Homo sapiens: one gene and its partners. The protein of the gene in region 2 purifies or fractionates together with the protein of the main gene of each other region. This does not show direct contact. Each region holds a gene or a part of one and is shown on either strand. Other genes may lie near its edges. The genes, in order: CHD4, CBX1, POGZ and CHAMP1.

What was found.
Region 1: the proteins of CBX1 (region 2) and CHD4 purify together in Homo sapiens (affinity purification with mass spectrometry; 7 studies listed by BioGRID and IntAct, with this or other methods). This does not show direct contact.
Region 3: the proteins of CBX1 (region 2) and POGZ purify together in Homo sapiens (affinity purification with mass spectrometry; 7 studies listed by BioGRID and IntAct, with this or other methods). This does not show direct contact.
Region 4: the proteins of CBX1 (region 2) and CHAMP1 purify together in Homo sapiens (affinity purification with mass spectrometry; 6 studies listed by BioGRID and IntAct, with this or other methods). This does not show direct contact.

What each region holds. Positions count from the first base shown.
Region 1 is NC_000012.12:6,597,355-6,604,392, forward strand, and holds part of CHD4 (chromodomain-helicase-DNA-binding protein 4), read right to left. Parts: intron 5,144-7,038; coding exon 5,022-5,143; intron 4,822-5,021; coding exon 4,606-4,821; intron 4,413-4,605; coding exon 4,294-4,412; intron 4,177-4,293; coding exon 3,935-4,176; intron 3,700-3,934; coding exon 3,572-3,699; intron 3,316-3,571; coding exon 3,180-3,315; intron 3,042-3,179; coding exon 2,863-3,041; intron 2,659-2,862; coding exon 2,419-2,658; intron 1,072-2,418; coding exon 868-1,071; intron 746-867; coding exon 540-745; intron 1-539. UniProt on the Homo sapiens protein: ATP-dependent chromatin-remodeling factor that binds and distorts nucleosomal DNA. Acts as a component of the histone deacetylase NuRD complex which participates in the remodeling of chromatin.
Region 2 is NC_000017.11:48,091,479-48,098,478, forward strand, and holds part of CBX1 (chromobox protein homolog 1), read right to left. Parts: intron 1-7,000. UniProt on the Homo sapiens protein: Component of heterochromatin. Recognizes and binds histone H3 tails methylated at 'Lys-9', leading to epigenetic repression. Interaction with lamin B receptor (LBR) can contribute to the association of the heterochromatin with the inner nuclear membrane.
Region 3 is NC_000001.11:151,402,224-151,407,532, forward strand, and holds the end of POGZ (pogo transposable element with ZNF domain), read right to left. Parts: intron 5,069-5,309; coding exon 5,012-5,068; intron 4,801-5,011; coding exon 4,688-4,800; intron 4,409-4,687; coding exon 4,384-4,408; intron 4,242-4,383; coding exon 2,579-4,241; 3' UTR 501-2,578; downstream 1-500. UniProt on the Homo sapiens protein: Plays a role in mitotic cell cycle progression and is involved in kinetochore assembly and mitotic sister chromatid cohesion.
Region 4 is NC_000013.11:114,310,026-114,317,510, reverse strand, and holds the start of CHAMP1 (chromosome alignment-maintaining phosphoprotein 1), read right to left. Parts: upstream 3,009-7,485; 5' UTR 2,868-3,008; intron 1-2,867. UniProt on the Homo sapiens protein: Required for proper alignment of chromosomes at metaphase and their accurate segregation during mitosis. Involved in the maintenance of spindle microtubules attachment to the kinetochore during sister chromatid biorientation.

The DNA of each region.
Region 1 (7,038 bases), on a different chromosome or scaffold from region 2:
CTTTGGGAAGCTGAAGCAGACAGATTGCTTGAGCCCAGGAGTTTGGGACAGCTATGAGCAGTGATCACGACACTGCACTCAAGCCTGGGCAACACAGCTAAAATTTGTCTCAAAATAAATATATAAGGCTGAGCGTGGTGGCTCACGCCTGTTAATCCTAGCACTTAGGGAGGCCAAGGCAGGCAGATCACCTGAGGTCAGGAGTTCAAGACCAGCCTGGCCAGCAGAATGAAAACCCTGTCTCTACTAAAAATACAAAAAATTAGCTGGGCATGGTGGCTTGCGCCTGTAGTCCCAGCTTCTCAGGAGGCTGAGGCAGGATAATCACTTGAATCTGGGAGGCAGAGGTTGCAGTGAGCCGAGATCACGCCACTGCACTCCAGCCTGGGCACAGAGTGAGACTCTGTCTCAAAAACAAAAAACAAACAAAAAAAACCAGTGTCTTCCAAGTCTAAGTTACTGGTGACAGCCATTTTCCCAATCTCTTTAGCAGGACTCTCCCACGGAGACTGCCCGTCTCCCGTGTGCTCAGCTGGTACCTGTGGTTGAGGATTCGGTGGATCATCATCCACTCGGGTTTTATCCCATAGCGATAGAAGCGTTCCTCCATCTCTGCAAATTTAGGGTCCTTGTTCTTTCGCTTTCGGCTTTTCTCTTCATCACCACCAAAGTCCCCAGAAGGTGGCTCATCCATATCATTCTTCCGCTGATAGTTTCGGAACATCACCTGACAGTGCAGCTCCAGCTTTGAGCGGAAAGAGAAAATCAGCCACCAAGAAGCTGTGTTCATTCCTTCTATCCACAAGGCTCTTTTGTCACTATCCTCTTCATCGTAGCCCCTACATCTCCAGACTATCCTAAACTTACCTGCAGTTCAGAAACCCAGGAGCAGTGCCAGTAAGACATGCCTTGCCATTTCACAAAGAACTGCCGCTCTGGCCGCCCCTCCAAGGGCTTTGGGGAGGGCGTGTTGGGATCAGCATCTGGAGGCCGAGGCACTGGTGTGGGAGATGGTGGCTGACCCCACTTCCAGATTAGGATCTTCTGCACTTTGCCCTTCAGAGCTGGACACTGAGAGAAAAAGAGACAACTTAATCTCAAATCATAACCATGGGAGGAGAAGGGACAGCCCACAGTCTCAACTTCATCAAAGGACGATTCAGATCTCATTTCAGACCTGGAGCAGTGGCTCATGCCTGAAATCCCAGCACCTTGGGAGGCCGAGGCGGGCAGATCACGAGGTCAAGAGATCGAGACCATCCTAGCTAACATGGTGAAACCCCGTCTCTACTAAAAATACAAAAATTAGCTGGGCGTGGTGGCATGCGCCTGTAGTCCCAGCTACTTGGGAGTCTGAGGCAGGAGAATCACTTGAACCTGGGAGGCAGAGCTTGCAGTGAGCCAAGATTGCCCCACTGCACTCCAGCCTGGGGGACAGAGCAAGACTCCATCTCAAAAAAATAAAAAAAGATCTCATTTCAAATAAAATCTAATCCCAGGACTCCTCCAGGGAGAAAATACAGGTTGAGGACCCCTCATGTGAAATGCTTGGGACCAGAAGTATTTTGGATTTCACATTTTTGGATTAGGGTGCTCAACCTGTAATAGAATTCCCTCTCCATTTCTGGACATCGTCCAGGATTTGCGTGCCACCATCACTCCTATCTGCTTAACAGAGCCAGTAGTTAGACTTTAACAATAAGCCAGAACAATCAGGAAATCAACAGACTTAGAGCACAGAATTCCTCCCTTAAGCAATCTAAAGCAGTAAGTGGCCCTATTAAACATTCTAAACTGGCTGGCATGGTGGTAAACACCTGTAATGCCAGCACTTAATGAGGACAAGGGAGCAGAATGGTTTCAGACCAGGAATTCAAGACCAGCCTGGGCAACATAGTGAGACCCTGTCTCAACAGAGATTTTTTTTTTTTAATTAGCTGGATGTGGTGGCATGCACCAGTACTCCTAGCTACTCAGCAAGAGGTTGAGATAGGAGGATCACTTGAGCCCAAGAGTTGGAGGCTGCAATGAGCTATGACTGCACCACTGCACTCTAGCCCGGATGACAGAATGAGACCCTGTCTCCAAAAAAAAAAATTTTTTTAACAAAAAAATTGAAAACATTGTAAGCTACCAAGACCCTGAGGCAGGGTGTCAACACAGGGACAAATGTTCTCAGCTAGAAGAACATTGCTTCATCTCCTCTTAAGAGAGCTGGCAAAACATCAACTCCTCAGTTTGAAGTTAGTCCTATATTTTCCCAGGACAAAAGTATCCCAACACTATAGGATGAAGGAGAATACCTTTCTCAGGGCTGAAAAGCTCATAGTTCCTCTCCTGCACCCCAGCCTCACAATAGCCTACATAGAAAAGACTACACTTTCCCATTTTTTGCCCCGGCTGAGATCAGTCACTCACCGTACAACGGGGACAGAGCCATTCACCGTTGGGGATCTCTGGAAGTGGGGGATTCAGGCAGTGGATGTGGTAGGAAGAAGGACAGGTATCACAGCAGAGCAGTTCCCCACCATCCTTGCAGACCCGACAGAATTCCATATGGTGGTCATCCTCCTCTTCGAGGTCTCCCCCAACCTCTTCCAGGATCTCCTCACCCTCCGAATTGTCCTCTTTAGCTTCCCACTGGATGCCTTCCTTCTCCTGCAGTAAAGGACCACAGATTCAGATTATTACCCCCACCCGCCCACCGCAGTCTGAAGCCAGTGCCCATCATTCCTTTGAATGCTTCCCAAAGCTCACAACCCGCAGCACCAGCATTTCCATTTCCATCCAGGCCCCGAAGAGCTTTACTGTCCCACCCTTCTTCTCATGGGTTCCAAGGGGCCACAATGGCCAGACACTCACGCAGTGTGGGCAGCTCCACTTGCCCTCGGGAGCCTTCTCCATGTCGGGATCCAGGCAGACCATGTGGTAAGCACGGGGACAGGTATCACACAGGATGATCTCACCGCCTTGCTGGCACACCTCGCAATAGTCCTGGTGGTCTGTCTCATAACCATCCACAGCAGTCACCTCCTCCTCGCCTGGGCAAGGAAGAGGGAAAGCCCAGTTATTGGAAAAAAACTACCTCCCCCCACCCCCCGACCCCTATCTCCTTAGGGAGATTCTTCCCCAATCACTCCCACCTCATCCCATCACAAATATACAGAAGAGAAACACACCTTTCTTTTTCTTTTTAGTGGTTCGGAGTTTCTTGCGGCTGCGGCTACTACGGCTGGTGGAACCATCAGAAACAGAATAGCTATTGATACTGGCATCATCGAAGTCAGATTCCACATCTAAGTCATCATCCTCACTCTGGCAGGATGAAAAAGAATAAGGTTAGACGTTCAAGCCAAGGGGAAGGACAGAGTGGCAGAGAGGGGAGTACTCTCTCACTGGGGACACCAGAATCCCAGCAAGCACCGTTATACAGGGAGCCTAGTCTCATCTTGTTCTGTGGGAAACGCCCCACATTCTTACGTGCCTACTATGAAGGACAGGTTCTGATAGAAGGTCACATCCTTTCTATTAGACATGGCACCCTCCCTAAAGCGATGGGCTGGGCTCTCACCGAGGATCTCTTACGCTTGGAACCAAAACCTCCCAGCTTGATTTTCAGGGGAGCTACTTTCTTGGGTTTAGGCTTCTTGGCATCAGGTACACGAGGGCTGCCCTTGGGCTTCCTCCGAGCATTGGGACCTAAAATCAGGATATATCCAAATATATACCACAAGACCAAAGATGGGGAAAATAAAATCTTCTCCACCTAAGCTTGCTTCCCCACATTCAGATTCCCAAATTTCCCTCCAAAATCCAAGACTCATTCCTCCCTCCTATCTCCTACCTTAGGGCTGACAGACCAGCATTCCCATGCTGTCTTTGACATCTTAAGCCCACACTAGACACCCCCACTCCCATTTGAACCCCATTTCACCTTTGCCCTCCTTGGTCTTGGCCTTGCGGATAGGCACCTCCACAGGGGGAGGTGGTGGTGCAACCTCAGTGGCTGTCACCATGCTCTCCACCACAGCTACCGCTGCTGCTGCCGCAGCTGCCACTGATGCCCCAGAACTGCCTTTGAAGGGGTTATTGGTACTGAACTCCCGCCATTTTGCACCCAAAACCATCATCATCTTGGAGACAGCAATCTTGGGATTTTTGGCAGCAATGAGGGGTCTGGTGGAGAAATGCACAAGAGCAGAGGGAAAGGTTTAAGAATAAAAAAAGAAAGAGAAGTAAGAAGAGAGAACAGAAAGATTCTCCTCCCCCTTCCCCAAACCCCTTCTGTTTTACCTGACAAACTGGCTGAAGGCCTTGTAGTTGGTGAGGGTTCGATAATCCTCCTCTGAGAACACGTGGTCAATGTCTTCCATGCCCCAGTCTTCCAGGAGCTGAGCAGATGATTTAGGCTCCTGCAGAAAGAGCAAAGTCAAGTAAGTACCTGCCACCTAGTGCCCACACTTGCTAAGCAAATTTGTGTGGAAAAATCAGAGTAACAGAGTTAAGAGGAAAAGAAGAGAAAGTGTTCTAAAGGGCAGTAAGGTGTCTAGGAAACAAAAAGACAAAAGTTTAACAGTACAAAGAAGAGGATGGAGGTCCAGGCACCTTTGAATCATCATCATCATCCTCCTCCTCCTCCTCCTCCTTCCGCTTGGATTTGCTCTTCTTCTCTTTCTTAGGTCCAAGCTTCTTCTTCTTCTTCTTGCCAGGAGTATAGTCGCTGCCCTCACTGTCTGAGCGCAGAGCCACCTCTTCCTCCTCCTCCACAAACTCTGGCCCCTCCCCAGAGCTGTCCCCCAGCTGCCGGCATAAGAGCATACGCTGGAGCAGGGCAAGGGGGGAAGAGGGAGACAGACACACACATGCTACACACATGCTGACCTCAGGACAGCCCTGAGGCTCATCCCCAGAACATGGCCCACCACTTCTGAGAAAGAAACAAATGCCCTCAGCCCTTCAACCCTTCTCAGAGCTCCTCCCTTCTTCCTCTGATTCCCCGTAACATTCAGTCACCCACTCACCTCCTTTTTTTGGCGCTTGCTCTTAGGGATTTTAGGGTCCCGAGGTTTCTTAGGCTTTTTCTTCTTCTTGAGCTTTGGAGTCTCTGTTTCTGACAAATCCTCTTCTGGGTCCTCTTCATTTTCTACATATATTTGGCAAAGAGTGGTAGGCAGGGAAAAGATCAATAGCAAAAGGTTAGGCCCTAATCCAGAGGCTTTAGACTTTATTCCCCACCTCTTGTCCCAGATTCCTCTGAAGAGAACTGCTATACTCTGTACAGGAGGAAGCTGATACCCAGGACAAAAACAGACAAAGAGAGAGCTGTATATACCCGAAATAGGCCTGCCAGGCCAGACCAGGCCCACCTCGGGCAGCTGTCCAGACCCCTGCCTCCTCTCTCCCGTTCCTACCAGTCCTCTAGATGTTCACCAGTACAGCTGAACTGAGCTGCTCAGAGTTCACCAAGTAAGAGAACTAGATTTAGGCCTCCTGTAACTGGCCACCAAGTTATTCTATAAACCAGGGAATGAGAATGAAAGATCCTACTCAGAAGGCAAAAACTATAGAATATACCTTCCCAGAACAGGATCAGTTCAGGGGTCTCGGAAACCACACCCTTCTCTAACCACTTTGAAGTCATCACTGCTCAAATTAACCAGAACCTCCAAGTCCTAGGTTCAGGTGCCAGCTCAATCTCATGCCCACTTCTAAAATACAATTTCCTTTCCCCATCTCCAACCCTAATGTTCCTCCTCAGCTTCTCCTGGGTCAGCAGCCTCTTCTCCCTAGGGGCCCGAATCAGCCCAGCTGTCACCATCTCCCCTACACCCGCCCCCCAGCAAGCCTCCTCCCATCTGGCTCCACCTCCTCCCCTGGCTGGAGGCACACACAAAGCCTGGGTAAGACTGAAAGCTCCTGGGCAAGGATAGGTGGGAAGGGACACAGAGAAGACCAGGAGGCAGCTTCCTTTGTAACAGACATTCACACTGGCTCCGACTCCCTCCTCCCTCCTCTCTCCCTCTTCCCAAGCCACCCCCGCCCAAAGGGGGGTGGGTAGAGAAAGGAGTGGAGAGAAGAAGGGAGTGCCTCACCCACTGAGGAGAGGGAAAATGGCTCCTGACCGCAGAAGCCAGCCCAGGGCACCCAGCTGCCAACATAGGACAGACAGGAAGTGGCAGGGGAGGGGGTGGGTTTGAGAGAGGTGGGGTGGCGGGGGGGGAGACTGCCCTCATAGAAGCCTCCCCAAATTACCTGGCCCCAGGTCCAAATGCCACCTACTCTGGGATGACAACAGTTCACAAGAGCCCACCCTAACATCCTAAGCAAGGAAACCCAAGGAAAGCGAGACAAACATGAAGGTAATACTAAGAGAAGAACTCGATCACTCCCTCAATCATAATTATTTTTTCAATCATCAGAGCTGAGATTTAACAAAGGCTCAGTGGACTTGTGGTCAGCGCATACAACCTTCTCCCCAAATTTCTGATACCCAAAAGATTTAGTTTGAGGAATGGAGGCCCACAAGAAGTCTCTGAAGCTCAGCTTCCTCACCACTCCCACCCAGATTCCTATCCAACATATGGGAATGTCTGCACAAAAAAACAGAGCAGGACCTAGACAGTGGTAGAAGAGAATATCCCAATCGGGTGCAATGGCTCATGCCTGTAATCGCAGCACTCTGGGAGGCTGAGGCGGGCAGATCATTTGAGGTCAGTTCGAAACCAGCTTGGCCAACATGGTGAAACCCTGTCTCTACTAAAAAAACAAAAATTAGCCAGGCATGGTGGTGGGTGCCTGTAATCCCAGCTACTCAGGAGGCTGAGGCAGGAGAATCGCTTGAGCCCGGGAGGCGGAGGTTGCAGTGAGCCAAGATCGCACACTGCACTCCAACCTTGGCGACAGAGTGAGACCCCATCTCAAAAATAAAAAAGAAAATAATATCCCTCCTTCAATCCCTGACATGTTCTTAGCTCTTAACCCCCAAAATTAGCCCTAAAATGTCTCTGGCTCCCCACTTCCTGAGCTAGACAGATACTA
Region 2 (7,000 bases):
ATTCTCCTGCCTCAGCCTCCCAAGTAGCTGGGATTACAGGTGCCCGCCACCATGCCCTTTTTTTTTTTTTTTTTTTTTTTTTGAGACAGAGTCTCACTCTTGCCCAGGCTAGAATGCGGGGGCATGATCTTGGCTCACCGCAACTTCTGCCTCCAGGGTTCAAGTGCTTCTCCTGTCTCAGCCCCACCAAATAGCTGGAATTACAAGCACGCGCCACCATGCCCAGCTAATTTTTTGAATTTTTAGTAGAGACGGGGTTTTACCATGTTGGCCAGGCTGGTCTCAAACTCCTGACCTCAGGTGATCCACCAGCCTCAGCCTCCCAAAGTGCTGGCATTACAGGCGTGAGCCACCACACCAGGCCTAATTTTTGTATTTTTAGTAGAGAGGGGGTTTCACCATGTTGGCCAGGCTGGTCTCGAACTCCTGACCTCAGGTGATCCACTCACCTCGACCACTCAAAGTACTCAGGTTACAGGCGTGAGCCACCATGCCCAGCCAGATCTTTTTTTTTTTTTTTTTTTTTTTTGAGATGCAGTTTCACTCTTGTCACCCAGGCTGGAATACAATGGTGCCATCTTGACTCACCACAACCTTCGCCTCCCAGGTTCAAGTGATTCTCCTGCCTCAACCTCCCGAGTGGCTGGGATTACAGGCATGCGCCACCATGCCCAGCTACTTTTGTATTTTTAGTAGAGATGGGGTTTCTCCATGTTGGTCAGGCTGGTCTCGAACTCCTGACCTCGGGTAATCTGCCCGCCTCGCCCTCCCAAAGTGCTGGGATTACAGGACTGAGCCACCATGCCCGACCAGATCTTCTACCTTTTAATACTATCTATTAAAAAAAAAATAAAATTAGCGAGGCACTGTGGCTCACACCTGTAATCCCAGCAGTTTAGGAGGCCAAGGCAAGGGTTGTGGAGTGGTTAAGGCCATGAGTTTCAGACCAGCCTGGGCAACACAGCAAGACTCCATCTCTCTCTCTCTCTCTTTTTTTTTTTGAGAGGGAGTCTTGCTCTGTTGCCCAGGCTAGAGTGCAGCTATCTTGGCTCACAACCTCCACCTCCCGGGTTCAAGGGATTCTCCTGCCTCAGCCTCCTGAGTAACTGGGATTACAGGTGCCCGCCGCTGCACCTGGCTAATTTTTCTATTTTTAGTAGAGACAAGGTTTCACCATCTTTGCTAGGCTGGTCTCGAACTCCTGACCTCGTGATCCACTTACCTCAGACTCCCAAAGTGCTGAGATTGCAGGCGTGAGCCACCGCACCCAGCTGCGAGACTCTATCTCTAAAAGATTAATTAATTAATTAGGCCGGGCATGGTGGCTCAGGCCTGTAATCCCAGCACTTTGGGAGGCCGAGGTCGGCAGATCACCTGAGGTCAGGAGTTTAAGACTAGCCTGACCAACATGGAGAAACCCAGTCTCTACTAAAAATACAAAATGAGCCGGACGTGGTGGCGCATGCCTGTAATCCCAGCTACTCGGGAGGCTGAGGCAGGAGAATCGCTTGAACCCAGGAGGCAGAGGTTGCAGTGAGCCGAGATCACACCATTGCACTCCAGCCTGGGCAGCAAGAGCAAAACTCTGTCTCAAAAAAAAAAAAAAAAAAAGAAAAGAAAAGAAAAGAAAGAAACAAATTAGTTGGGCATGATGGCAGGCGCCTGTAATCCCAGCTACCCAACTACTTGGGAGGCTAAAGCAGGGAGAACTGCTTGAACCCAGGAGGCAGAGGTTGCAGTGAGGCCAGATCACGACACTGCATTCCAGCCTGGGCAATAGAGCGAGACTCTGTCTCAAAAATAAAATTAAAAAAAAAAAAAAAAGACACAGAAGACAGGTCTCGAAAAAAATTTACAAAAAGGTAAACAATGCAAGTTCAAGTGAGAGTCCGAAATGGCAAGCATACATAATTACCAAAAGCAGTATAAGCAATAAAAAGTAGCCATAAACGCACTATAGGAGGTTGGAGGAAGAACTGGCGAGGGCATCAGTAAACATTTTGAAAAGCTGAGTTTGAAACCAGGCTTTACTAGCATTTGAAAAGGTGTACTGGTAGGGCAATTTGGCTTCAGGAACTGTTGTAAACAAAGGCAATGTGACACATATAAACCAGTTTGGGCTGGAGCTGACTGAATAGGAAATATTTTCTACAAGGTTTCCTCCCATTTAAAACAAAAGGCCAAAGTCGTCAGTGTAACACTTATATTCTTCGGTTCTTATTCCAGACTAATTATGTCCCTTCTTCCCTCACAAAATCTACATTCCTGTCAAAGACTATAACCTGGCCACAACCTGAACATATCCTATGTTTCCTCCATAGCTTTGCTCATCTATTAAGTATTAAGAAGTGTGGGCTTAGGCCCGGCATGGTGACTCACGCCTGTAATCCCAGCACTATGGGAGGCTGAGGCAGGCGAATTACCTGAGGTCAGGAGTTCGAGACCAGCCTGACCAACATGACCCCATCTCTACTAAAAATACAAAATGAGCTGGGTGTGGTGGCGCATGCCTGTAATCCCAGCTACTCCAGAGGCTCAGGAAGGAGAATCGCTTCAACCTGGGAGGCGGAAGTTGCGATGCGCCAAGATCGTGCCACTGCACTCCAGCCTGGGCATCAAGAGTGAAACTCTGTCTCAAAAAAAAAAAAAAAAAAAAAAAAGAAGTGTGGGCTTGGTAGGGCGCAGTGGCTCATGCTTGTAATCCCAGCACATTGGGAGGCCAAGGCAGGTGGATCACTTGAGGTCAGGAGTTCAAGATCAGCCTGGCTAAGATGGTGAAACCCCAACTCTAGTAAAAATACAAAAATCATCCAGGTGTGGTGGCACATACCTGTAATCCCAGATAGTCAGGAGGCTAAAGCAGGAGAATTCCTTGAACTTGGGAGGTGAAGGCTGCAGTGAACCAAGATTGTGCCACTGCACTCCAGCCTGGGATACAGGACAAGACTCTGTCTCCAAAAAAAAAAAGTGTGGGCTGGGCTCTGTGGCCCACACCTGTAATCTCAGCACTTTGGGAGGCCGAGGTGGGTGGATCCTTCAGGCTAGGAGTTTGAGACCAGCCCAGCAACATGGTGAAACCCCGTGTCTACTAAAAATACAAAAAAAAAATTAGCCAGCATGGCGCACCTGTAGTCCCAGCTACTCAAGAAGCTGAGGCACGATAATTGCTTGAATCCGGAAAACGGGGTTAGGATGCAGTGAGCTGAGATCGCGCCACTGCACTCCAGCCTGGGTGACGGACCAAGACTCTGTCTCAAAGGAAAAAAAAAAAAAAAAAGTGTGCTCCTGACTGGGCTTGGTGGCTCACACCTATAAATCAGTACTTTGGGAAGTCGAGGCGGGTGGATCACTTGACGCCTGGAGTTCAAGACCAGCCTGGCCAACATGGTGACACCCCATATCTACTAAGAATACAAAAATTAGCCAGGTGTGGTGGTGCATGCCTGTAATCCCAGCCACTTGGGAGGGTGGGGCACAAGAATTACTTGAACCAGGCAGGCAGAGGTTGCAGTGAGCCAAGATCTTGACACTGCACTCCAGCCTCAGTGACAGAGCAAGACTCTGCCTCAAAAAAAAAAAGAAAGAAAAAAGAAAGTAGTGTGCTCCTGTACAGGGCCAACAGTCAAAATCCTATCCATTCTTCAAGACCCAGCTTAAAAATGCTACTTTCTCCATGAAGCCTACCCAACCTAGCTAAATAATATTTCTCTTTTCTTTGGGGTTCCCAAAGCATTCTGTTTCTATTTTTACTTGCACATACAATTAAAGGTAGGTCTGGAACCTGAACAAGTTGTTGAACCCTATATGGACAATAAAGATGGATGTCTCAGGTGGGGCGCGGTGGCTCACGCCTGTAATCCCAGCACTTTGGGAGGCTGAGGCAGGCAGATCTCCTGAGGTTGGGAGTTCGAGACCAGCCTGACCAACATGGAGAAACCCCATCTCTACTAAAAATGCAAAATTAGCTGGGCATGGTGGTACACGCCTGTAATCCCAGCTACCTGGGAGGCTGAGGTTGCGGTGAGCTGAGATTGCACCATTGCACTCCAGCCTGGGCAACAAGAACAAAACTCCATCTCAAAAAAAAGAGGATGACTGTCTCAGAAGCATCAGGGAATAGAATTCCAAAGCTATAAGCTTTTAAGGGAATAAGCAGCAAGATAAATCTGATCCATAAGCCCTAAAGAGAAAACAAGAAAGAAGTACCTTTTGTTGAAAGAATCAGCAACTACATACCAATCATCAAAAGGCAGGTGAAGGCATGTGTAGTATATTCAGGTGGTAGTCTTGTTTCTAAACTGCTTGTAGTCTGTAAGCTGTGGCTGTTTGCGAAGCAAATGCTTTCCAGATGGAAAACTTGACTAAGCAGAAAACAAGAACTTATGCCACACACAGTTAGCAGGAGTTTCTTTTTTTTTTGGAGATGGAGTCTTGCTCTTTCACCCAGGCTAGAGTACAGTGGTGCAATCTCGGCTCCCTGCAACCTCCGCCTCCCAGGTTCAAGCAGTTCTCCTGCCTCAGCCTCCCGAGTCACTGGGATTACAGGCATGCACCACCACGCCCAGCTAATTGTGTATTTTTAGTAGAGACGGAGTTTCTCCATGTTGGTCAGGCTGGTCTTCAGTTCCCACCTGAGGTGATCCACCCATCTAGGCCTCCCATAGTGCTGGTATTATAGGCGTGAGCCATCACGCCCAGTCAGGAGTTTCATTTTTAAAGGAACACCAGCCCTTGAATTCCAGAGGATCAAAGGCTAGAATGCTGGTGTGCGAATACATTTTGAATTTTATCTGAGATGTGTTCTGAAACTTGGAAAACCCCTTGAGTATGTTGACATGGATATTTTGACACAGATTTTTGGGTTGAGAGGCCACAAGAGTCTACAAATGTTAGTATGGACACAGAGATACCTCAAGCTATCTTTCAAAGGTGAATTTAAGATAAAATAAAAGTGGTTAGAAAGCTAGACCAGAATTATGACTACATTGGAAACGTATCAGAACACCACAGTGGCCAGGCATGGTGGCTCACACCTGCAATCCCAGCACTTTGAGAGGCTGAGGTGGGTGGATCACTTGAGGTCAGGATTTCAAGACCAGCCTGGCCAACATGGTGAGACCTCATCTCTACTAAAAATACAAAAAAAGTTAGCTGGGCATGGTGGTGTGCACCTGTATTCCTAGCTCCTCAGGAGGCTGAGGCAGGAGAATCACTTGAACCCGGGAGGTGGAAGCTGCAGTGAGCTGAGTGGAGTGCACCACTGCACTCCAGCCTGGGTGACAGAGCAAGACTTGTCTAAAAAAAGAAAAGAAAAACAAAAACCACCACAGTGGGCCAGGTGCAGTGGCTCATGTCTGTAATCCCAGTACTTTGGGAGGGTGAGGTGGGAAGATTACTTGAGGCCAGGAGTTCGAAACTAGCCTGGGCAACATAGTGAGTCCCTGCCTCTATTTATGTGAGAAAAATAAAAGTTCAAAAACCCCCACCACAAGTTGGGCGTGGTGGCTCACGCCTGTAATCTCTGCACTTTGGAGGCCAAGGAGGGTGGATCACCTGAGGTCAGGAGTTGAAGACCAACCTGGCCAACATGATGAAACCCCATCTCTACTAAAAAAATACAAAAAATTAGCCAGGCGTGGTGGCAGGCGCCTGTAATTCCAGCTACTTAGGAGGCCTGAGGCAGGAGAATCACTTGAACCGAGGAGGCGGAGGTTGCAGTAAGCTGAGATTGCGCCACTGCACTCCAGCCTGGGCAACAAGAGCGAAACTCCGTCTCAAAAAAAGAAAAAAAAACGCCACCACATTGTACCCCATAAGGATACACCATTCTTGTCAGTTAAAAATTAATACTATAGGCTGGGCGCAGTGGCTCACACCTGTAATCCCAACACTTTGGGTGGCCGAGGAGGGTAGATCACCCGAGGTCAGGAGTTCAACACCAGCCTGGCCAACATGGCAAGACCCCCATCTCTACTAAAAATACAAAAATTAGCCGGGCGTTGTCGGGGCCCCCTGGTAGTCCCAGCTACTCCGGAGGCTGAAGCAGGAGGATCGCTTGAACCTGGGAGGCGGAGGTTGCAGTGAGCTGAGATCGCGCCACTGCACTCCAGCTTTGGCGACAGAGCGAGACTCTGTCTCAAAAAAAAAAAAAAAAAATTAATACCATAGTTCTGTTACGCACTCAAAGTGTCAACTATTATTTTAAAAGGCACAATTTCACAGACAAATTAGGTTGCCCCCTTCTGGTCATCAAAGTATAAATGCTAAAGGCAGGAAAGATTTAATACAAGTTATTCTATGCAAATATTGACAAGATCTAAATTTTGTCCATATCTGAGTAACTTCTCCAAATAACCTTGGAAAGGCTATTCAATTTTTCAACAGACATTGCTACTGGTAAATTATTGCTCAGGTCAATACAAAGGACACAGAAGATTTTTCAAGATTCTTTTAAAACAGATATATTCAAGCTATTTGCTTGCTGACAAAACCCAGAATCTGAGGCCTGAGGTATTTAAAACGGCCAGTTGCACAGCCTGTATACCTTTTCTATATTTAGTACCAGAGTGAGTACAAAACTGAAGCTAACCATTCTGGGCAACAGAGACTGTCCCCACAAAAAAGAAGCCATGCATGGTGGCATGAGACTGTAGTCCTAGCTACTCAAGAGGCTGTGGTGGGAGGACTGCTTGTGTCCAGGAGGTTGAGGCTTCAGTGAGCCATGATGCCACCACTGCACTCCAGCCTGGCAACAGAGCGACACTCTGTCTTAAAAAAACAAAAAACAAACAAACAAACAAACAAAAAGAAACTAACTGAGGCTAAGACAAACATGGCAAAGCAACAGCTTAACTCTGCCAAATGTCACAGACACAGGACAAGCAAACTACTATGCACATTAATTTGGCTGAGTTCTCAGAATGGATCTCAAAGCTCCCCTATTCATCATTCATTCATCAACAATCTGAACGGCCTACTATGTGCCAGGCACTAATGAACA
Region 3 (5,309 bases), on a different chromosome or scaffold from region 2:
AATGTTGGCTGTGATTTTCATTAAAATACCACTTTAAAAATAATCTAGTAGAACTATTCTGCATCAGGTTGCCCTCAAGTCAGCTGGGGCATCAGCCATCCCTGGAATGGTTCTAAACCTGAATATTTTAGAGACAAAAGTCTCATTCTGTTGCCCAGGCTGGCGTGCAGTGGCATGATCATAGCCTACTACAGCCTTGAATTTCTGAGCTCAAGCAACCTCCTGCCTCAGCCTCCCAAGTGCTGGGATTACTGGCATGAGCCATCATGCCCAGCTTGAATTTTTAAAATGAACACTGTAGGCGATTCTGACACAAATCCTCTCCAAACTTCTTGAGAAAGAAAATATAGGCAGCAAATTCAAAGTACAGAAATTCAGTGAGAACTGAAGGAAAAAATAAAACCATCCCTCCATTTGCATTGTCCGTTAACAACAAACTTGTAAAGCCAAACAATGAGCTTTCAATCTGAAACCTCCACACATTCAGTCTCAACACAGGAAACAGTCAATAAATACATGTTTATTGATTAAACTGAATTATAAAAAACAAAACCAAAAAAAAATTTCCTTCTACTACTAAGCCATGCAGGCAGAGTCCACAAAGACAACTTCCTGGCCAAAACCCAGCTGATCCACTGTTGGTATAATCTTAAAAAAAATTACCCATCAAGAAAGTCAATCGTGTGCAGAAGACAGGAACCCCAGCTCTGCTAAGGCTGTGGCTGCTGCAGAGACTACCAAAGAGTAGGATTAGGTTGTAGATAGACGTGACCAACCATAGTTCTTGAACTTTCTCAAAGGCAAAGGCTGACTTCAAAGTCCATTGTCTGTCAATAAAATGGCATCAGGCAAAAAGCTGGGGAAGAGAAGCCCAGATGGATCCTTGGTTGTTTTCAGATGTCAAAGGTTCACAAAGCTGGCCAAGCTGTTTCTGGAAGGGACTTTTCCAGTTCACTATATTATAGTGTGCTGGGGGATGAAAAAACAAACAAACAAAAAAGCAGGGTGGGGTGGGAGAAATGGGTGGTAACAAATGTCACACCTGTACCACCAGGCCCATCACATCTTGAGCATTCCCCAGTCTGTGAAAGCCTATTAAACAGGGTCACCTAGAAAAAAAACAAGTTTATAAATCCATTTCCCCTCATTTTATTAAATGTTCCACTTATGTACATTTTAAAGACGAACCATTTACAAGCTTGTGCAGTTTGCCTCCTTGGCTCACAGGAGGGGAACATTGTGGAAAGCCTCAGGATAAACAGAAGACTTGGTTTTTTGCTCCTTTTCTCTGTACGGTACAGTACGTTTTGGTTTACAACCATGAGTACATACAATTAAAAAAATCCCTCATGCAAATTGTAGAAAAAATTTTCTTTCCTTGAAGCTGGCAGTGAAAAATAAAGATTCATGTCATTTTCTTTGTGCACACCCCTGTGCGCTTCTTCCTGTCAGATTCTTCCCTAAGTATTAAGAGAAATAGGGGAAAGCCACAGAGCACGCTGGATTTCAACAAGTGGTCTTGTCTTTTTAAAGTTCAACACTTCTTGAACAATTAGCTCCTGGCTGTAGGACCAGTAATCCCTTAAACAGGCATGCTCTCCATCTAACAGGATGAAGTTCAGTAAAGCAGGGACTGCCCCTGGGGGCTTACAGGATGAAGACTCAAACTGGGAATGGCTTCCACCCTAAAACTGTTTGATCGCTTCAGTATCTCTTGCTTGCTAATAACACCTGTATGATCCTTTGTCCAGAGGGATGGATGGTGTTGAGAATGGGGAAAGGGGCCAAGGATCACAAGTGCAAAAAATATTGTTTATGTCATGTTTTGGAGGGAAGGTGGTGAGGAAAAGACAAATCTATTCATTCTGGATAATTAAAGGTGGTTTCATGCATTTTTAAAGCCACAATTTTATATCTAGGGTTGCTGTAGAAACCAACATCTCTGGAGAGGGAAGGAAAGAAAAGGAGAAGGAAGAGAGAGTTCAGTGGGACTTTTTTTCCATTTTCATTTTTATATAAAAGTGTTAAGACCACAATGAAAAAAGTTTTTTATCCATATATATAATAAACCAGTTTGTGAGCTACATAATTTGTCTTTCCCATCTTCAGAAATGTTCTCACATTAACAATGATTAGATAGCATCATGCCCAAAGACATTGGCCACACAATAAAACAAACAAAAAAACCCAGTACTATGATACAATTGAGGTAAAAGGGGAAACAAAAAAATTTAACATTTGCCCACAAATAATTTTTTTTCTTTTTCTTAATTTTGTCAGAAAAATACCAAACACAGTGATTTAAATTTAAAAAAAAAAAAAGTCACAAAAACCTGTTTTTAGCAGAAGTGAATGACCAATGGGCCAGCTCCTTGGCTCAGACGTGATTACTATTGGTTTTCCTAATTAATCCACAAATCCACAGGGAAGTGTAAGTCAACTTCAGGGGGGAGTGGTGGTATAAAATTAAAAAATAGAAACCAAATACCCCACCTGGTATGCCCCCTTTTCCCTAAGCCCCTTTACCCTCCCTCACATGTTCCCACCCTCACTCCACACCCCCTCATGACCCCAACACTCAAATCTCCATCAGATCTAGGTCAGCTTCTTCAAAGCCATAGAAAGACTCGGTCTCACTTTCACCCTCAAAGAGCTGGTGAAGACTTTCAGGCTCAATTGTCTCTTCAGGAGATGATCTGGGTCGTGGAGTGGAAGACTCAGAATGTTCCCCACTCAGCTTCAGTTGCTCCTCTAGGGAGGCAATTAGCTCCTCCTGCATGTCAGCATTTCTTGTAGGTGAGTTAATGTTGCCATCGGGGCCAGGCAGAACACTAGCCACCAGGAAGGAGCGCTGAACTAGCTCTGGACAGTCCCCAATGACACCTAGCACTTCACCCAGCCAGACAAGCACCAGCTGAAGCAGGACATCAGAATCACATGCAGTATCTGCCATTTCCCGAGCCTGTTCCTTCCATTTTTTATGCAGGAAGTTCTTGACAGTTCTTTTGATGCATACATCTAATGGCTGAATTTTGGAGCTACAGCCTGCTGGGACCACTGCAGGCAAAGTGCTAGAGGCACTAAGCATAGCCAGTACCTCTTCTGACAAGTGAGTGCGATGACAGTCCATCACAAGCATGCCTTTGCTGCGCTGGCAAGCTGTGTGCTTCTGCCACACTCGAGTTGACCACAGCTCCATGATCTCGTCATCACTGTAGCCACTCTCCTTTGCCTCTAGCAATATGGAGTCTGGCATGTTAGCAGGCTGATCCATCTGCCCTCTGTAGAAAACCAGGGTGGGAAGGACAGTGCCATCTGCCAGAATGGCTAGGACTACATCACACCAAGGTTCCCCTGTGCCCACTGTCTGCAGGGCATTCTCCTTTCGATCATCACTGCTCAGCACCTCTGTATCCAGGAACAAAGAGATCTCATCAATAGCCACAATCATAGACAAGGGTAAGTCCTGGTTGTGAATCTGCCGTTGTACAAAATCAATGAAGAGTCCTGCATTCTCTGCTACATCCTTAGGTAGGGTGTGGGCCACAGCTCGCCGGGCATGGGGAGTCAGGTGGTGCCGCAGCATGAAACGCACAGCCCACTCATAGGAGATCTTAAACCCCCCTTCCAAAGAACGTCCTATTTTGGTGGCCTTCTGGAACAAGGTCTCCTCATTTACAGGTAGCTGTTGTTCGCGCTGGGTTAGCACCCACTCAGCCAGTTTCTCTTCTGCCTCAAAGCTCAGATATTTGCCCTCTAGATTCTCCCCCTGGGAGGCCTGGAAACGTCGAAGCCAACGGCGAATACGTCGCTGGGGATTTCGGAAGTGTTCAGCTGCCTGTTCTGTATTGCAGCATAGAGCAAACAGTACTACTCGAAGCTTCTTCACAGACAGCTGCTCCTTTTTGCCAACTCCACCACTACCACCACCACCTGATGCTAGCTCAGGTTCTTGGGTGACTGGGCTCCCTTCATCCTGATCATCAACATTCAGACATTCGGCTCCCTCTGTAGCCAGCGGTGGAAGGGCTAAAGCCTGCGGGTGAGTGGGGGTTGGTGGTGGGGTTGCAGTTGAGGCTGGTGATGGGAGTGCTGGGGCTAAGGGAGTTAGTAGCTCTTCAGGCTCAGCTGGGGTGGCCCCCGCAGATTTCACAGTGGCAGCTTTGTTAGTGGGGAAGGAAGGAGGAGGGTACATATTCTTCACGTTCCGGTCATGCACTCGGTCACGAGTCTGGCCATGCCTAAAGGGGTGAGGAGCAAAGAGAAGAGGAGAAATCTCAGTTCAACTAGGAAATTGAAACAATAATATGATAATAATAATAATAATAACAGAGTAAACACACTGCAAACCAGAAATTAAATTGTGAGGTGAGTTTTTGTTACCTTGAGTGAGCTATCCAAGTGAGTCCTATGGAAAATGAAACAACAAAAATAGTTAGCTCAGTGAAAAAATAAGCCCTCCAAAGACAGTGCCCTGGGATTCAACTTACTACATACAAATACGCTGTTCGCAGTGACCAGCTTTCCCAGTTTTATATAAACTTCAGGTCGGAAGGTTTCTAATTAGGTCCAGCACATCTCAACAGTGAATGAGTGAGGCCAAGTAGGTATGCTCCTGATGCATACAGTACGAACCTGTATCTTTTTTCCTCCCCTTGCTCAACTAATCCCCTTCTCTCCTACTTACCCCGTGGCAGGATGCTGCTGGATCTGTGAGAGGGGTTGAATACCAAATGCTTGGCCATAGCATCGCCCACAGAGGTAACAAAGGTACATGAAGTGCAGGCCAGCTTGATTCCACTAAAAAAGAGAATTGAGACTATGTAAGACAAACACAGCAGTGACACTTGAGACCATTAAGCTTTGAGGCTTAAGAAAGAAAAGGAATGCCCTCCCACTTTCTCCTTTTTCTGAAATTAATTCACATAACCACCTCTCCAAATAATGAAAAACCTGAAAATTAATGTAAAAACCTGAAAAATTAAGATGCTGCCAATAAGTTTTTTCTTACCTCACAGAATTTTTAAACAAAGCCAAATACTTGGGGCTCTTCCGTGGAACATGATTGCTGAGAAAGACAAAGAAGTGGTATGAGTTACGGAGTTCTGCTGGCTAAGCTAGAGATCACCAGCCAGTGACAATGCCCCCAACAAAAGAGACACTTCTTCAGTGCACCCTAATCTCAACCTAAGCCAGTTTTCCTGTCACCATGCTTCTTAAACTTTAATATGCATACAAGTCACTGAGGATCTATTAAAATTCACATTCTGGTTCAGTAGGCCTAGGGCGGGGCTGAGAGTCAGCATTTC
Region 4 (7,485 bases), on a different chromosome or scaffold from region 2:
CTGGGACCATAGGTACCTGCCACCACATCTGGCTAATTTTTTTTTTCTGTAGCGATGAGGTCTCACTATGTTGTCCAGGCTGGTCCTGAACTCCTGGCCTCCAGAGATCTTGTTGCCTTGGCCTCTCAAAGTGCTGGGATTACAGGTGTGAGCTACCATGCCTGGCCTTTAAGAAATTAATAAACTGGGCGGGCGCAGTGGCTCACACCTGTAATCCCAACACTTTGGGAGGCCAAGGCAGGCGGATCATTTGAGGACAGGAGTTCGTGACCAGCCTGGCCAACAGCCAACATGGTGAAACCCTGTCTCTACTAAAAATACAAAAATTAGCTGGGCGTGGTGGTGCATACCTATAATCCCAGCTACCTGGGAGGCTGAGGCAGGAGAATCGCTTGAACCCGGGAGACGGAGGTTGCAGTGACCCAAGACTGAGCCACTGCACTCCAGCTGGGCAACAGAGTAAGACTCCATACTCACCCCCAACCCAAAAAAGAAAGAAATTAATAAACTAATTTTCCAAGTAGTTTTATGTTTGAAGAAAAACTGAAGGGAATGTACAAGAATTCCCACCTATCTTCTTGTCCCCAGTTTTTCCTACTACAGGCTGAGCATCCCTAATCTGAAAATCTGAAATCTGATTATGCTCCAACATCCAAAACTTTTTGAGTGCCAAAAGGAGCATTTTAGATTTCAGATTACGGATGTTTAACCAGTAAGTACAATGCAACTATTCCAAAATCCAAAAAAAAAAAAAAAAATCCAAAGCACTTCTGGTTCCAAGCATTTCGAATGAAGGATACTTCACCTGTATTAACATCTTGCATTAGTGTGAGATATCTGCTACAATGATAAGCTAATACTGATTTATTAAGTAGTCTATAGTTTACACAAGGAGTCATTTTTATTTATTTATTTTTTTTTGAGAGGGAGTCTCGCTCTGTCACCCAGGCTGGAGTGTAATGGCGCAATCTCGGCTCACTGCAATCTCCACCTCCCAGGTTCAAGCGATTCTCCTGCCTCAGCCTCCCCAGTAGCTGGGACTACAGGCGCGCGCCACCACAGGCTCACGCCTGTAATCCCAGCACTTTGGGAGGCCAAGGTGGGCGGATCACCTAAGGTTGAAAGTCAGAGAGCAGCCTAACCAACGTGGAGAAACCTCGTCTCTACTAAAAATACAAAATTAGCCGGGTGTGGTGGCAGGCGCCTGTAATCCCAGCTACTTGGGAGGCTGAGGCAGGAGAATCGCTTAAATCCGAGAGACGGAGGCTGCAGTGGGCCAAGATCGCATAACTGCACTCCAGCCCAGGCAACAAAAGTGAAACTCTGGCTCATTAAAAAACAAAAACAAAAATAAAAACAAAAAACTTGCCATTTAGGCCGGACATGGTGGTTCATGCCTGTAATTTCAGCACTTTGGAAGGCCGAGGCGGGTGGATCACCTGAGGTCAGGAGTTCGAAACCAGCCTGACCAACATGGAGAAACCCTATCTCTACTAAAAATACAAAATTAGCCAGGTGTGGTGGCAAGCGCCTGTAATGCCAGCTACTTGGGAGAATGAGGCAAAAGAATCCCTTGAACCCAGGGGGCGGAGGTTGCAGTGAGCCAAGGTCGGGCCATTGCACTCCAGCCTGGGCAACGAGAGCGAAACTCCCGTCTCAAAAAAAAAAAAAAAAACAAAACTTGCCATTTAATCATTTTTAAAAGCACAATTTAGTTAGTTTAGTACTAAAACGTTGTGCAAACATCACCACTATCCACTTCCAGAACTTCTTCACCACAAACAGAAATTCTGTACCCATGAAACAGTAACTTCCACTCTCCACTTTCAGTGCTGGTAATCTCAATTCTGTGCCTGAGGGGGAATCATACAGTATGTCTTTTTTGTGTCTTATTTCACTCAACATAATGTGTTCAATGTGCTCGTTTATACTGTATAATGTGTTCGTTTATATTGCAGCATGTATCAGAATTTCATTCCTTTCTAAAGATGAACAATGGTCCATTCATTATATGTATATACCACAGCTTGCCTTTCATCCACATGTTGATAGACATCTGGATTTTGAATAATGCTGCGATGAACATTTGTGAACAAGTATCTGAGTCTCTGCTGTCAATTTTTGGGGGTATAAACCTAGAACTGAGGAACGACTACCAATTTCCATAGCTGCTGCACCACCCTACTTTCCCACCAGCAATGCACCCGAGCTTCAATTTCTCCACATCCCCAACACTCATAATTTCCCTTTTTTTTAATAGCCACCCTAACAGGTGTGAGGTGGTATCTCATTGTGGTTTTCATCTGCATTTCCTTAATGGTTAGTGATGTTGAGCATCACTGCACGTGCTTATTGGCCATTTGTCTCTCTTCTCTGGAGAAATATCTATTCAAATTCCTTGCCCATTCTTGAACTGGGTTGCTTTTTGTTGGTCAGTTGCATCTCTTCTTGTATTCTAGACATTAACTCTTTATCAGGTTTACAAATGTCCTCTCCCACTTTGGAGGCTGTATAGCGGATTTTTAAACAGTAATAATGACAGAAGAGGAGGCAGTCTAGAACTAAAACAGAAAGAATGGCTTTCGTCTTGTGCCGCCCTCAACTTCCCAATGGTTTCAAACGCAATGTTTCCAGCCTCGGCAGCGACTGACACCGGGCCTCCCCGCTCCCTGCACAAAGACGCACTCCCGCCCCGGCCTGTGGGGGCGGGCCCTTCCCTCGGGCCGTGTGGGAAGCGAGGCAGCGCAGGCCCCCTTCACTCGGACCCGCGGCTTCCCGGGACCGTCCCCGCCAGGTCGGCGGCCGACACGGGGCTCGGGGATGCAGGCCCCAACCACGCCCCTCCCCCGCTCGCTCTCGCTCCTCACCGGTCCGGCCGCGGGCGGCGTCCAGTGGGCGATGGACCGCGCGGAGGGCCCGGCTCGCGGTCGCGGGCGGCTCCGCGAGGCCCTGCAGCGCAGCGGCCTCCCGAATGGCGACTGGATGCAGGAGCCGGGATCCGGGTGCGCGAGCGTGCGCGCTCCCGCGGGACGGGCGGGGGCTGACGGGAAGCAAGTTTGGCGCCGCGCGCCCTCCCGCGCGGGCCAATCAGATCGCCGATCGCGTGGCGCGGCTGTGCCAAAAGTGCGTGGGCAAAACTAGCGGCTCGCGCGGGCCTTCGGAAGGGCTGCGTGCCCGCCCCGCCCCGGAAGTGCCGCACGTGCCCACTCCGCCTCCGCTTCCCGCGCGCGCCCGGGCGCGGCTCCGGGAGGGTTCCGCCGCGTCTGGCCTGTGGCCTCCGGCCAGGCCCTTGGAACGGCCCCGGCCTGCCGCCGCCGTGCGGATATCTCTTCCTTTTCTTGCTGTTTTGATTGTTGTGTGAATGAATTTATTAGGAAAAAAAGAGCTAGACCTGCCCCATACATTCTCAGGGATATTACTGGCATAATACCTATGACAAAAGTACAAGACAAAGTTGTTGGATGACAGTAAATATTCCTTTTCTCATCACCCCGCCTCCACTGAAAGTCCCGATTCCCAGAAGTTATCTTCTTCGTTTTTTGTTTTCAGTTTTATGAATGTTACCACCACAATTCTAATTAAAATGCATGCACCTCTAATGCTGATGCCATCAGTCTGTATGCTTTGAAAGACTGTAAAATTAGCTCACACTGCTCTCTACCTTTGTACCCTTCTGAAGTTTTGCTTGTTGTGAATTTCATTTTTGTTTTTGTGGTGAAAATGAACTATAGAATGGCCGGGCGCGGTGGCTCACGCTTGTAATCCCAGCACTTTGAGAGGCCTAGGCAGGTGAATCATCTGAGGTCAGGAGTTCGAGACCAGCCTGTCCAACCTGGTGAAACCTTGTCTCTGCTAAAAATACAATATTAGCCAGGCGTGGTGGCGGGCGCGTGTAACCCCAGCTACTAGGGAGGCTGAGGCAGGAGAATCCCATAGAACCGGGGAGGCGGAGGTTACAGCGAGATCGCGCCACTGCACTCCAGCCTGGGGGAGAGAGTGAGACTCTGTCTCAAAAAAATAAAAATAAAATCCATAGAATTTACCGTCTTAACTATCTTTACGTGTACAGCTCAGTGGTGGTAAGTATATTCATAACACCACCATCCATCTCTGTACCTCTTTCATCTTGAAAAACAAACTATGCATTACATGTTAACTCTCGGTTCCCCTCTACCTTCTACTTTCTGGCAGTCACCATCTTACTTCCTGTGTCTCTGAGTCTGACTACTCATAAGAGTGGAATCATACAGTATTTGTCTTGTGACTGACTTATTTTACTTAGCAGAACATCCTCAAGGTTCATCCATGTTGTAGCACATTGTGGAATTTCCTTCCTTTTTAACACTGAATACTATCCCATTGTATGGATATGCCACATTTTGCTTATCCACTCACCTGTTGATGGACACTTGGCTTGCTTCCCTATTCAAGATATTGTGAATAATGCTTTGACATTTTCAAAGAACCAATTTTTGGTTTCATTGATTTTCTCTATCGTTTTCTATTTTCTATTTCATTTATCTTGGCTTTAATCTTTATTATTTCCTTCTTTTTGCCAGCTTTGGATTTAGTTTTTCTTTTTATAGTTCATTAAGTTGTAAAGTTAGGTTGTTAATTTGAGATTTTCTTGGTTTTTGATGTATTTATAGCTATAAACTCCCCCTTTAGCATTGCTTTTGCTGTATCACAAAAGTTGCTATATTGTGTTTACATTTTTTTCTTTTCTTTTCTTTTCTTTTTTTTTTTTTTTTTTTTTTGAGACAGAGTCTCGCTCTGTCGCCCAGGCTAGAGTGCAGTGGCGCCATCTCGGCTTACTGCAAGCTCCGCCTCCCGGGTTCATGCCATTCTCCTGCCTCAGTCTCCCGAGTAGCTGGGACTACAGGCTCCCGCCACCACGCCCGGCTAATTTTTTTGTATTTTTTTAGTAGAGACGGGGTTTCACCGTGTTAGCCAGGATGGTCTCGATCTCCTGACCTCGTGATCCGCCCGTCTCAGCCTCCCAAAGTGCTGGGATTACAGGCGTGAGCCACAGCGCCTGGCTCTACCTCCCTTTCATGCAAAATTTAGGATCCTGTGTTAATTTCCGGAATGATTCTGATTTCTAGGATTCAAATATCAATATTAAATATTTTAGGATTTTTCTAAGTTTTGTTTTTGCAGCAAAATTGATTCATTAAATTTAATAGATTTCTTTAAAAAGTATCCACCTAGTTACAAGCTTTTAAAAGAGCCAATGAAAACAGTTTGTAAACTGTAAATGTTAAATGCAGAAATGAGAGGATCTTTTATTTTCTCTGAATAGCAAAGATTTACTGATTGAGAACTTTTTGAGATCCTGACTCTTAATATGAAACAGGTTCGTTGTGGCTGCAGGACCTAATTTGAATGGCTGCTTCAGTTGTTTTTTCCTGAAGTGTCAGAATGAGTTGATGATCCCAAGAGACCTATTCCAATTGAACACTGAACAAAACTCTAGCAGAAGGCAACTCTTGGTGACGAAATAACAAAAACCAAAACACCCTCTGCTATTATTCTGAATTGAAATCATGTTAAAAAAGCTATTGTAGTTATAGAATATTAAATAGTTCAAGATGAATAATGCAAATAAACTCCCAATTTGGCCTTTTGAAAGGTTCCCAGTATATTGCACTAAACTTTAAAGTAACCAAAGAAAGCAGAAATAACTCTCATAAAATCCTGTACTAAAACCAGACCCTTATGGACTTTCAAAATTTCACTTAAGGATCTATTGAACATATACTTCTCAACAGTTTATTTTGATGTTTTCTCAACCTATACTATGTTCCAGGGACCAGACTTGAATCAGGGAATGGGTAGAGGCAGGTGAACTACAATTGCAGTAGAAAGTGGCAGCCTGACAGCCTTTGAGGAGCTGCAAACTCATTAGCTGAGATGGCACTGGACTTTGTCATTTGTCTTCTGTGTATAAAGAATAACAGTGCTGAGTATCTGCACATATTCAAAACCTACACAGAATCATGTTGTCAAATGAAGCAGCCAAAATCAGACTGGCTTTCTGTCAGAAAGTCAGACTTAATTTTTCCATTCAAATTGCTGCATTAATATGTATTACAAGGAACATAATAAAAATTAGAAATAAATTATTAAGTGCTTCCTGTAAGAGAAATAATAAAAGCAGTCCAGCTTATAATTTAGATCTAATATAATCAACTTAGCTACTTTATAATAAAAAAGGACAAATTATTCTGCTATTTCTACTTAATTTATAATAATGCAAAATAATGGGAACTAAAATAAGTTACTTAATGGGAAGTATGATAAAATGGAATTCCTCCTGAGTATCTAGCTCTGTTGCTGGGCTTTGGGGAATGTCAAAGTATAGTTCTCAAAAGTTAAACACATGACTCACACGAATATAAAGTGAACACATATCAGAGGATTTATTTTATTTTGTATTTTTTTTTGAGACGGAGTCTTGCTCTGTCGGCAGGCTGGAGTGCAGTGGTGCGATCTCTACTCACTGCAACCTCCACCTCCCGGGTTCAAGTGATTCTCCTGCCTCAGCCTCATGAGTAGCTGGGACTACAGGCACTTGCCACCACGCCCAGCTAATTTTTGTATTTTTGGTAGAGATAGGGTTTCACCATGTTGGCCAGGACGGTCTCAATCTCAGAGGATTTATTTAACTCATTCATGAGGGAATCCAGAGGAGGATGAAGCTAGTTCAGAAGGTTCATAAAGCTGAGTACGTGCAGCCACTAGAAAAAGTGGAGTCAAATGGCCAGTTAGAAACAAAAGTGGTTAGGATCCTACAGGGAAGCACAACTGCCACCTTTGAGGCCATGTTATAGAAATCACTCACATCTCTACTGGGCAAAAATCCGTAAGGAAACATGTGATGTCACAGTGTGGGCACAAATGTGGGTCAACTGTTAAATAATCGGAGCTTGTCAGACATGACACAGCCATGCAATCACTCTTTTTTGCCTTATTTCCGAGTTTTAGACATTTTTTTAAATAGGACTGAAAAATAAAAATCAAATATAAAAATTAGAATCAAGTCCATTAATATTTTCTTAATTTTTTTTTTTAACCATTCACTAGCCCCAGTTTTGGAGGGAGGAGAGGATGCCCAGGCCCCAGAAGCCTTTGCTGGTGGGCATGGGGCTCTTCCTTTCCTCTCAGGCAGAGCAGCAGACTTTGCTGAAGGGCAGTCTAGGTCCACACAGCTGCCAGGGGTGGCAGATGGGCACTGACTGCTGCATTGCAGGCACTCAATCAATGCTAGTTGAGCGCCAGTGAGCGAGTGAAAGGCAACTGGGAGCCTGGTGCTGGCCGGCAGAGCAGCTAAGTTCTCATATGGCCAGTTTACCGTGTAAGTGCAAAGCCAGCCTCAATCAATCCTGCTACACTCTTCATGAAAAGAGCAGCAGAGGGCACTTTGTTTCAAGCAGGCTGCCCAAGAACTATGGTCACCTGCTCTGCTGGTTGAAGAAAAAAAAA